Regions from separate parts of the Homo sapiens genome. Here region 2 is linked to region 1. Evidence: fine-mapped expression QTL. A gene starts in region 1. The other region holds a variant in brackets. All regions are shown on one strand. Distances are from middle to middle.

Region 1 (4,403 bases):
CAAAGTTACTTTCCCCTTTTAGGCATTTTTTCTTCTGAATGAAATCACTTTTGGATCTTCATTCTCTGGTCAAATTTAAATTATGACACCATTCTCTAGGAGACTGCATAGCGTTTTCCCCTGGTCTGGCGACTGTTTTTTAATTTGATAGCATTATTGAAAACATACCAGACCCAAGCAAAAAAAGTCTCCCCTGGCATTTTGAGAAGACACACTTTTTTCTGCCTTTTAAAAGGAAATTATCATTGCCTCCCTCCGTACCCTCTGAGACCCTCGGACCTTGCACTGACCCTTCTTCATCCAGAACTACCCCTCTGGATGGATCTAGTGAATGGGCTCCCAGTTGTTGGCAGCTGGGAGAGGGAGAGAAGCAGATCCTCAGATAGTGGAATCACCCCATCAAACAGACAAGGCTGGAACACCTTCCTTCTCCACAGCTGGCTGCTGTTAGTAACTATTCCATGCTGGCCTTTGTGGTCCTTGCCTGCCCTTCCTTATAAAAAATTCTCCTGATGGGAGAGTTTCCTGGGACATCAGGGACACAGCATGATGGGCCCTTCCCTGCATATGCCCTCTATCTCCCACACATGAGGCCTTGGCTTCTTGCAGCCTGCCTCAAGAATTCTTCAGAATGTATAAGGAACATCGCTGCACCCCAGTTTCCTTTTCTCTAAAATGGAGGTAAGTATATCCAGCAGAAGCAGCCTTATATGAAGAAAGAGCACAAGCTTTGGACTCAGGCATGCCTGAGTTGAAATCCTAGGCCTGTTTCTTAGCATTGAAGTTTCTATACTTCAGTTTCTCATCTAAAATATAACTATAATAACAGTTACCTGCAGAGGATTAACAGGATTAGCAAAATGAGAGAAAGTAGATAAAGCACCTAGTGCTGTGCCTGGCACAGAGTAGGTGCTAAATAAACAGTCATCTGTTCCCCAGCCTGGCTGAAGAGCCTGAGCCCCTTCCTCATTGCAAACTAGGGGATGGAGGGGCTTTGAAGAAATTGATGACTCTTTAGGGGCAAGGTTCAAAGGGGCTTCTCAGCTTCTTACATTCTTCCATATAAATGCTGAGTGAATGAATGGATGAATTAATGAGTGACTTCTCTCAAGGAGGAACTAAGGGTCACGGCAAGTACAATGAACAACACAAAAGTATTGACATAGGAGCCAGACCAAAGGGGTTTGTGGTTCACCTCGTCTGACAGGTGACTTCTCTGTCTCTGAAGAAAGTGAGCCAGAGAAACTCTCAGCTTGGAAATACCAAGCAAAAGAGAGCGGGAATGAGAGACCATGGTGAAAACAGAACAGCAATGAACTACATGTGATCACAGCAGCCAGGTTCGCACGCCCTAGGAATGAGGTTAAATGTTCTTTTTCTAGAGAAACTGAACTGCCCCCAGGGAAAGGATCTTCAAGTCCTGACATTTAGGAGTTCCTATGAAAAATCTGGCTGGCCTCCTCCCCCAGCAGAGAAGCCACCAAACTGAGCCCTTCCATGCCCCGATAGCATCAGATCAGCTTTCTAGTGTCTCACACTTAAATCTAAATGGATTCTTTAGAATCATAAGACAGCTGAAGGAAAGCATTTTTTGTTTGTTTGGTTTTTTTTTTTAGAGTCTAACTGTCGCTCAGGCTGGAGTGCAATGGCACAATCTCGGCTCACTGCAACCTCCGTCTCCCGGGTTCAAGCGATTCTCCTGCCTCAGTCTCCCGAGTAGCTGGTATTACAGGCGCCTGCCACCATGCCCAGCTAATTTTTGTATTTTTAGTAGAGACGGGTTTTCACTGTGTTGGCCAGGCTGGTCTCAAACTCCTGACCTCATGATCCGCTCACCTCGGCCTCCCAAAGTGCTGGGATTACAAGCGTGAGGCACCGCACCCAGCCTGAAGGAAAGCTTTAAGGTGAAGCAGAAATCAAAACAAACAGAAAGGAAACATCAAGGAGATAATGCAGGGACTAGAAGATAACTTTTAAAAATTATAATCAGTATCCTCAGAGAAGTAGGACTTCATCACATCCATGAACAACATTCAGATGCCAATAAAACAAGGAACAACTGGAAAAGAGAATCTAAAAATAAAAATGATGATACCCCTCCCCCATGCTTTTTCTTAAAAGGGTTAAACCATAAGCTCAGGGAAATCTCCCAGAAAGCAGAACAGAAAGACAAATAGATAAGTGATAACAGAGAATGGATGAGAAAATAAGAGGATCTATCGTGGACATTTAATATCCAATCAATAGGAGTTATTAGGAAGAAAAGACAAAATGCGATACGGGGAGGAGAGTAACCAAAACCAACTCAACCTGGAATGAGAAACAAACGGGTCCAGAAGGTGGGAACGTAATAATTTTTTTGCCAAATAATGAACTGGCTTCAGACCAGACCAAGTCTAGAGCTCACCGTGCCACCACGCTCTGCTCTCCTCCCCATCTTCAGATCTGCATTCTCCGGCTCCGCGTAGGGGCAAGATGGCGGCGCCCGCTCCAGAGCATGCGCCTCAGCTTCAGGAAAAAGCCTATCACGGCACACCTATGCCACACACCTGTGCCACGGCTGACCTAGAAGGCTCTATGGCATAGTGCTAAGAGAATGAACTCTGGCGTCAGACTGTCTTGGTATCAGTCCTGGTTTTGCCACTTATGAGCTCTGTCGCTTGGGCATGCTACTTAGTGCCTTTGTGCCTCAGTTTCCTCATATGACAATAGGGATAATAATGATGGTATCACCTCATCTGGTCACTGTGAGGGTTAATTGAGTTAACATGGTAAAATCCTAACAACGAAGCCGGGATAGAGGAAGCACTTTTTCAGTGACAGCCAGCATTATTATTCCCAGTCCACCCCTGGACAAATCACTGAGGCCAGGGCCATGCCACATGGGCCAGTTGGCTCAGGCCTTGGTTATGTGCTGCATCCTGGGTGAGGGGCTGGAGCCCCACTGGTAATAAAATGATTGACAGTGGGGAGGAGGCATTTCAGAGAAGGAAATCCAGGTACAATTACCGGAAGAGGCGGGTGGGGAGCTGCTGCACGGGATGCCATAGCATGATTGGCAATGGACTATTTGCTTCTTTCAGAGAAATCTCCTTCCTCGCCGCTATCTGGTATTCTGGCTCCATGGCTCTGCTGAGGCCATTATTATACTGTATTGGAAGGCTCGGGCCTTCAGCAGAACAGTCCAGAGGGCCGTGGGCACCGTATTCTCGCCTGTGCCCCCACCATCAACAAGTGGGGAAGCTGTGTTCCCTATTCTTTCTGACAGCACATCATCATCCAGTTTTGCCCCCTGACTGCCGGGAATCACTCAAACTTACCTCCCAGGAACAAAGACTGGTTTTCAGACACGATCCCATCTAAAACCATTTTAGGAAAACAAAAATTATTCAGCTATGCAAGGGCCATTTGAGCCGATCTACACCTCTCTACTTCTTAACCCAAAGCATCTGCACTGGGGTTGCTTCCCCTCACCCCAGGCATTCCTTAGTAGGGAGGAGTGCCTGCTTTGCAGCCAGGAGACTGCCAGATCCCTTCAGGGGGATGCTTCCTGAGCAAGTGGGAAGGTCTGCCTACAAAAATTAAGTCACCCACCCAAGTCCTATAGCCAGGAAGAGAGAATAGAAATATGCCAAGAAGGCGCATGAGAGATGAGATGGGAGGCAAACGGGAAGGTCAGCCATGTTCTGGTCTGTGCCCAGGATTCGATGGCACCAGAGTGCTGAATTGCAGATGGGAACAGGACTGGGAAAGTCTACAGGATATTGTGTGAGGATGAACATTTAGCAGGGGAACTCAAGGGAGGGGAGTTTCTATGTCAAATGTAATTGATTTTTACAGTAATGCTCTTTAAAATGTATAAATGTGACATCTTTTCCCACTCTGTGCTTGACTACACAACTGTAATTCACTCTGTCACTCTTGGTGCTACAGGAATAAAATGCTGGTGTTTTATTATAAAAAAAACTTTCATTAAAGATCATTTGAAAATACGGAATAGAGGAGGGATGAAAATACAATCCAATTGTCCAATATAGCCATTGTATTACGGTCTATCTCCTTTTGATGTTTTTTTCCTGTTTCTATTTTGTTTGTTTCTTACATACTTGTAATCGTGATATTTATACAATTGTATGTTTGTTTGTTTTATCAAAGGCATGCTCATGCATAAAACCTTTTCTATTTTTACCATTATTTTTTGAGGAAATTGAGTTACTGAGGTTTGAGCAATTTTAAACCTTGGTCAATATTGCTAAATTGCTGTCCCAAAGAGTTACTCTAATTAAAACTTCATTCACATTGTATATAAAGAGGCTATTTCCTTTAGCTAGACTCATAGCATATACCAACAAGTGTTTCCCTAAACATAGAGCAACGAGATATTAGTGCTTTTAAATTTCTGG
Region 2 (4,403 bases), 620 kb after region 1:
AAGCCTTGGGAATATACAGTTGAGGGCAAGTCAAAGGTTGCACTGCTGTACACCTGGCAGATTTGGAGAAGACGTGGGTAAGTAGCTGGAGGCAATCCTCTGAAGGGTTGTGAAGGGATGAGGGGTGCCAAGAGCATGTACCTCAGCTTGGAGGCAATGGGTAGAAAGATGCATAGCTGGCACCAAGCCAGGTCCTTTTCTGGCTCCCAAGTCCACAGCACCTTGTTCCTTCTCCTTCCCCATATGTGTCCCCAACCCCTCCAACAGCTGACCTCTAGTCATCCCACAGAACATACTCAAGTTCTACCACTAAGGCTTCCACAGCTACTGTTATTGTCTTATTATTTTTTCTGATGAAGAGCCCTGGAGCCAGTCATACCTGAGTTCAAATCCCAGCTAGGCCACTTGCCAGTTGGCTGACCTTAGATAATTCACTTTCCTCATTGAGTCTTGGCTTCCATTTCTATAAAAATGATGCTATTTTCTTCTTTTTTTGGACAATTCTTCAATAATGAATATAACAGGCATTGAGTTAACATCCTTAAAATATAAAGAGTTCATCTAAAACAACAAGAAGTATACTAAGGGCCAGGTGTGGTGGCTAACGCCTGTAATCCCAGCACTTTGGGAGGTTGAGGCAGGCAGATTGCTTGAGCCCAGGAGTTCGAGACCCGCGTGGGCAACATAGCAAAATCCTGTCTCTAAACCCCAAAATTAGCCAGGTGTGGTGATAGTCCCAGCTACTCAGGAGGCTGAGGTGGGAGCATTATTTGAGCTCAAGTAGTGAAGGCTGCAGTGAGCCAAGCTCACACCACTACACTCCAGACTTAGCAACAGAGTGAGACCATGTCACAAAAAATTAAATAAATAAATAAATTTTGAAAAGAAATATAAGACAAAAACAATAAGTAGATAAGAGTCACAAACAGATAATTCCAAAAGATGAAATACATGTAGCTAATAACGTTTTAAGACATGTTTAACATCCCTAATAATAAAAGTGAAAATTAAAGAAATGAGGCACGTTTCACTTATGAAAAACTACTATAGTTTTTAATCTATAATAATCAGTATTGACAAGGGTGTGATAAGATGGACAACCTCCACTTGGTTATTAGGAATGCTTTTTGGAACACAATTTGGCAATATGTACCAACAGCTTTAACAATGCTCATGCATTTTGACCTAGTAATTTCGCTTCTAGGAATCTGTTTGAAGGATATAATCAGAGATGAGGTCAAAGATTAATATTCACAGATGTTCAGATGTTCATCACAGAGTTATTAACAGGAAATTTTTGGAAAAAAATCTAAATGGCCATGAGTAAAAGAATGTTTAAATTGGTTATAATGCATTCTTAAAGTGGAATTTTACAGCTAATAAAAATATTTTCATAGATTGATGATATAGTGATTACAATACAATGTTTGCTGATAAGCAGGAAATAACGTACATAATATATAATCTCAATTTTATGCTGCTATATTTATGCTTATATATTAGAAAATAGACTGAGAAACACCCCAAAAGGTTAATAATAGTAATTTGAAAGGTCATACATGACGTTTTCTTATATTTTCTAAGCTTTTCACAGTAAAGAAGCATTACTTTTAAAATGTGAAAATAAACTACTATTTAAAATCACAATAACACTGTTTGACCCAGTAATTCCTCTTCTTCAAATATGTTTAAAAAATCAGAAATTCAGTGAAACATGTTGGTATAAAGAGCCAAGACTCAATGGTGATTAAACCATTACTTATAATTTAAAAAATAGGAAAACAGGTATCTAGCAGTTGGAGAACAGCTAAGAAACTTGTTGTATCACCACATAATGGGACACTGTGAATGCACTAAAGATGTTTTTTAGTTAGAATGGCAATCATTAAAAAGTCAGGAAACAACAGGTGCTGGCGAGGATGTGGAGAAATAGGAACACTTTTACACTGTTGGTGGGACTGTAA[A/G]CTAGTTCAACCCTTGTGGAAGTCAGTGTGGCGATTCCTCAGGGATCTAGAACTAGAAATACCATTTGAGCCAGCCATCCCATTACTGGGTATATACCCAAAGGACTATAAATCATGCTGCTATAAAGACACATGCACACGTATGTTTATTGCGGCACTATTCACAATAGCAAAGACTTGGAACCAACCCAAATGTCCAACAACGATAGACTGGATTAAGAAAATGTGGCACATATACACCATGGAATACTATGCAGCCATAAAAAATGATGAGTTCATGTCATTTGTAGGGACATGGATGAAATTGGAAATCATCATTCTCAGTAAACTATCGCAAGAAGAAAAAACCAAACACCGCATATTCTCACTCATAGGTGGGAATTGAACAATGAGAACACATGGACACAGGAAGGGGACCATCACACTCTGGGGACTGTTGTGGGGTGGGGGGAGGGGGGAGGGATAGCTTTAGGAGATATACCTAATGCTAAATGACGAGTTAATGGGTGCAGCACACCAGCATGGCACATGTATACATATGTAACTAACCTGCACGTTGTGCACATGTACCCTAAAACTTAAAGCGTAATAATAATCAAATAAAAAAAATTTAAAAAAAAGAAAAAAAAAAGAAATTTTAATGACATGGAAAATTTTTGTTATAAAGGTCATTAAAAGAAGAACAGAAAATTGTATATACATATTTTAAATATATGTTTAAAATGAATTTTAAAACTAGGAATGCACACACTTAAATGCTAGCAATGATTTATCTTGGGCATGGGATTATATGTGATTTTTATTTTCTTCCATACACTTTTATATTCTTTTATATGCCATATCTATAATGACTATCAATACTTCATGAGCTTATTAAAAAAACAGAAAAAAGAACAATAGAGAAACGGTCTGAGAAGAAATGAACTTCTATATCGGAGAATGGAGCTAAGGACAGTTATCAAGATCGTTGAGAACATTAGATGATGAATGTGACCAGCACAGTGCCTGGCACATAACAGATGCTCAAATAAATGCAGGTTTGTTTCTCCCTCCCTCTTCTTTCCCGCACACATCTTTCTTGCTCTGAACCCTATGTGCCATTGACAGTCTGTCTCACTCTCCTTTACTCGAGTAACATTTCTCTTCCCAGCAGGTCTGTTGGCCCAGGAGGACTGAGCTAGCTCCTTCCTTCAGGGCATGGTGCCAGCTGGAGCTCAGGCAGCCTTGCTGACTAGTGATGGAGGAATAGGGACGACCCCTCCTTCCCTTCACCCTGACAACCCATATTCAGGGTTTCTTCTCAGGATGACATCTAGGGAGGTAAAGTTTGCACAGAGTGAAGGAGTGAGAGGGAGTTTCCTTGTAAATGGTTTTTTTCTCCTCTTTCTATCCCCCCAGTCTAGAGCTGGCAGAACATCCAGGGAAAGAAGGTAGGGAGATGGCTCCAAGGAAGGTTCCTATGCCAAGCATTTTGCCTTCACTGGTAACTGGCATCCCACCACTAAAGCTGAATGTTCTTTCTAGATACCTTTCACAATGCAGATTCCCTTTGGAGGACAAATATATTAATATGTACGTATTGATATGTATATATTTATCAGCTCCCCTTCAGAAGGCAAGTATGTGAGAGCCCCTGCATAAGGGAACTGAACAGGGAACTACTGAGAATGGCCATACCTGCAGATGGGGGTCTGGAATCTTCCATTAGTAAACCCATATTGAGGCTCCTACCCTGTGCCAGGCACTACTATATCACAGAAGATGCAGACCAATATGAGGCAAGGTCTGGTCCTCAGGTTTCTTACTCTGTAAATGGAGAACTAAGACAGACTTGTGAAAAATAACAGCAAAAACATATGGTAGCATAGAACTGCAGGACTGAAGGGACCTTAAAAGTTTTCAAGATTGACCATCCAATTGGTTATCAAATAACTGTTGTAGAGGTATATGCACAAAGGACACAGAGCTCAGACATGGCTTGAGCCAGGACTGTCTGGGAGTGCAGAAGGATTGTTAGGGCTGGACTGCCACAGAGGATTGGGAAAGGCTTTCAGGACGGGTAAAGCACAGAGCTGGGACATTTGAGGGACAGTGTGTAGACTGTTGGAAGGAGGCTGGTGAAGGGGAGAAGTAGGGAAAAGTACACACAAGAGAGTTGGGGTCAGTTTGCAAAGGACTAAGAATGCCAGGTTTGAGTGTCCAGACTTTGTCCTTTGGACAATGAGAGGCATCTGCTGCACATTTCCAAACAAAGAGGTGACTTTGAAAAGAGGTATCTGAAGGTGATTCTAAACATTGGCAGGAGACAGTAGGAACTGGTAGGGACTGGAGACAAGGTGGTGAGTCAGAGACATTCATGCCATCCAGATGAGATGCCAGGGGCATGGATTAGGACTGTGGAGGTGGGAATGGGAAGAAAAGGACCAGTGGCGAAGGACT

What was found. PIP is the estimated chance that this variant, and not a neighbour inherited with it, causes the effect.
Region 2: its variant is the best candidate, but not a certain one, in a credible set for the expression of MCFD2-AS1 in minor salivary gland (GTEx, PIP 0.78).

Annotation. Positions count from the first base shown.
Region 1 is chr2:46,897,319-46,901,721 of GRCh38, reverse strand. MCFD2-AS1 (MCFD2 antisense RNA 1) reads right to left here and starts at 2,447. Exons shown (of 2, transcript NR_199007.1): 1 at 2,408-2,447.
Region 2 is chr2:46,277,905-46,282,307 of GRCh38, reverse strand. All of the region lies in intron 2 of LOC101926974 (a long non-coding RNA gene), which reads right to left. Among named protein-coding and RNA genes, the nearest start is that of EPAS1, 17 kb to the left of the region's middle. The variant A/G (reference allele first, on the strand shown) is at 1,965.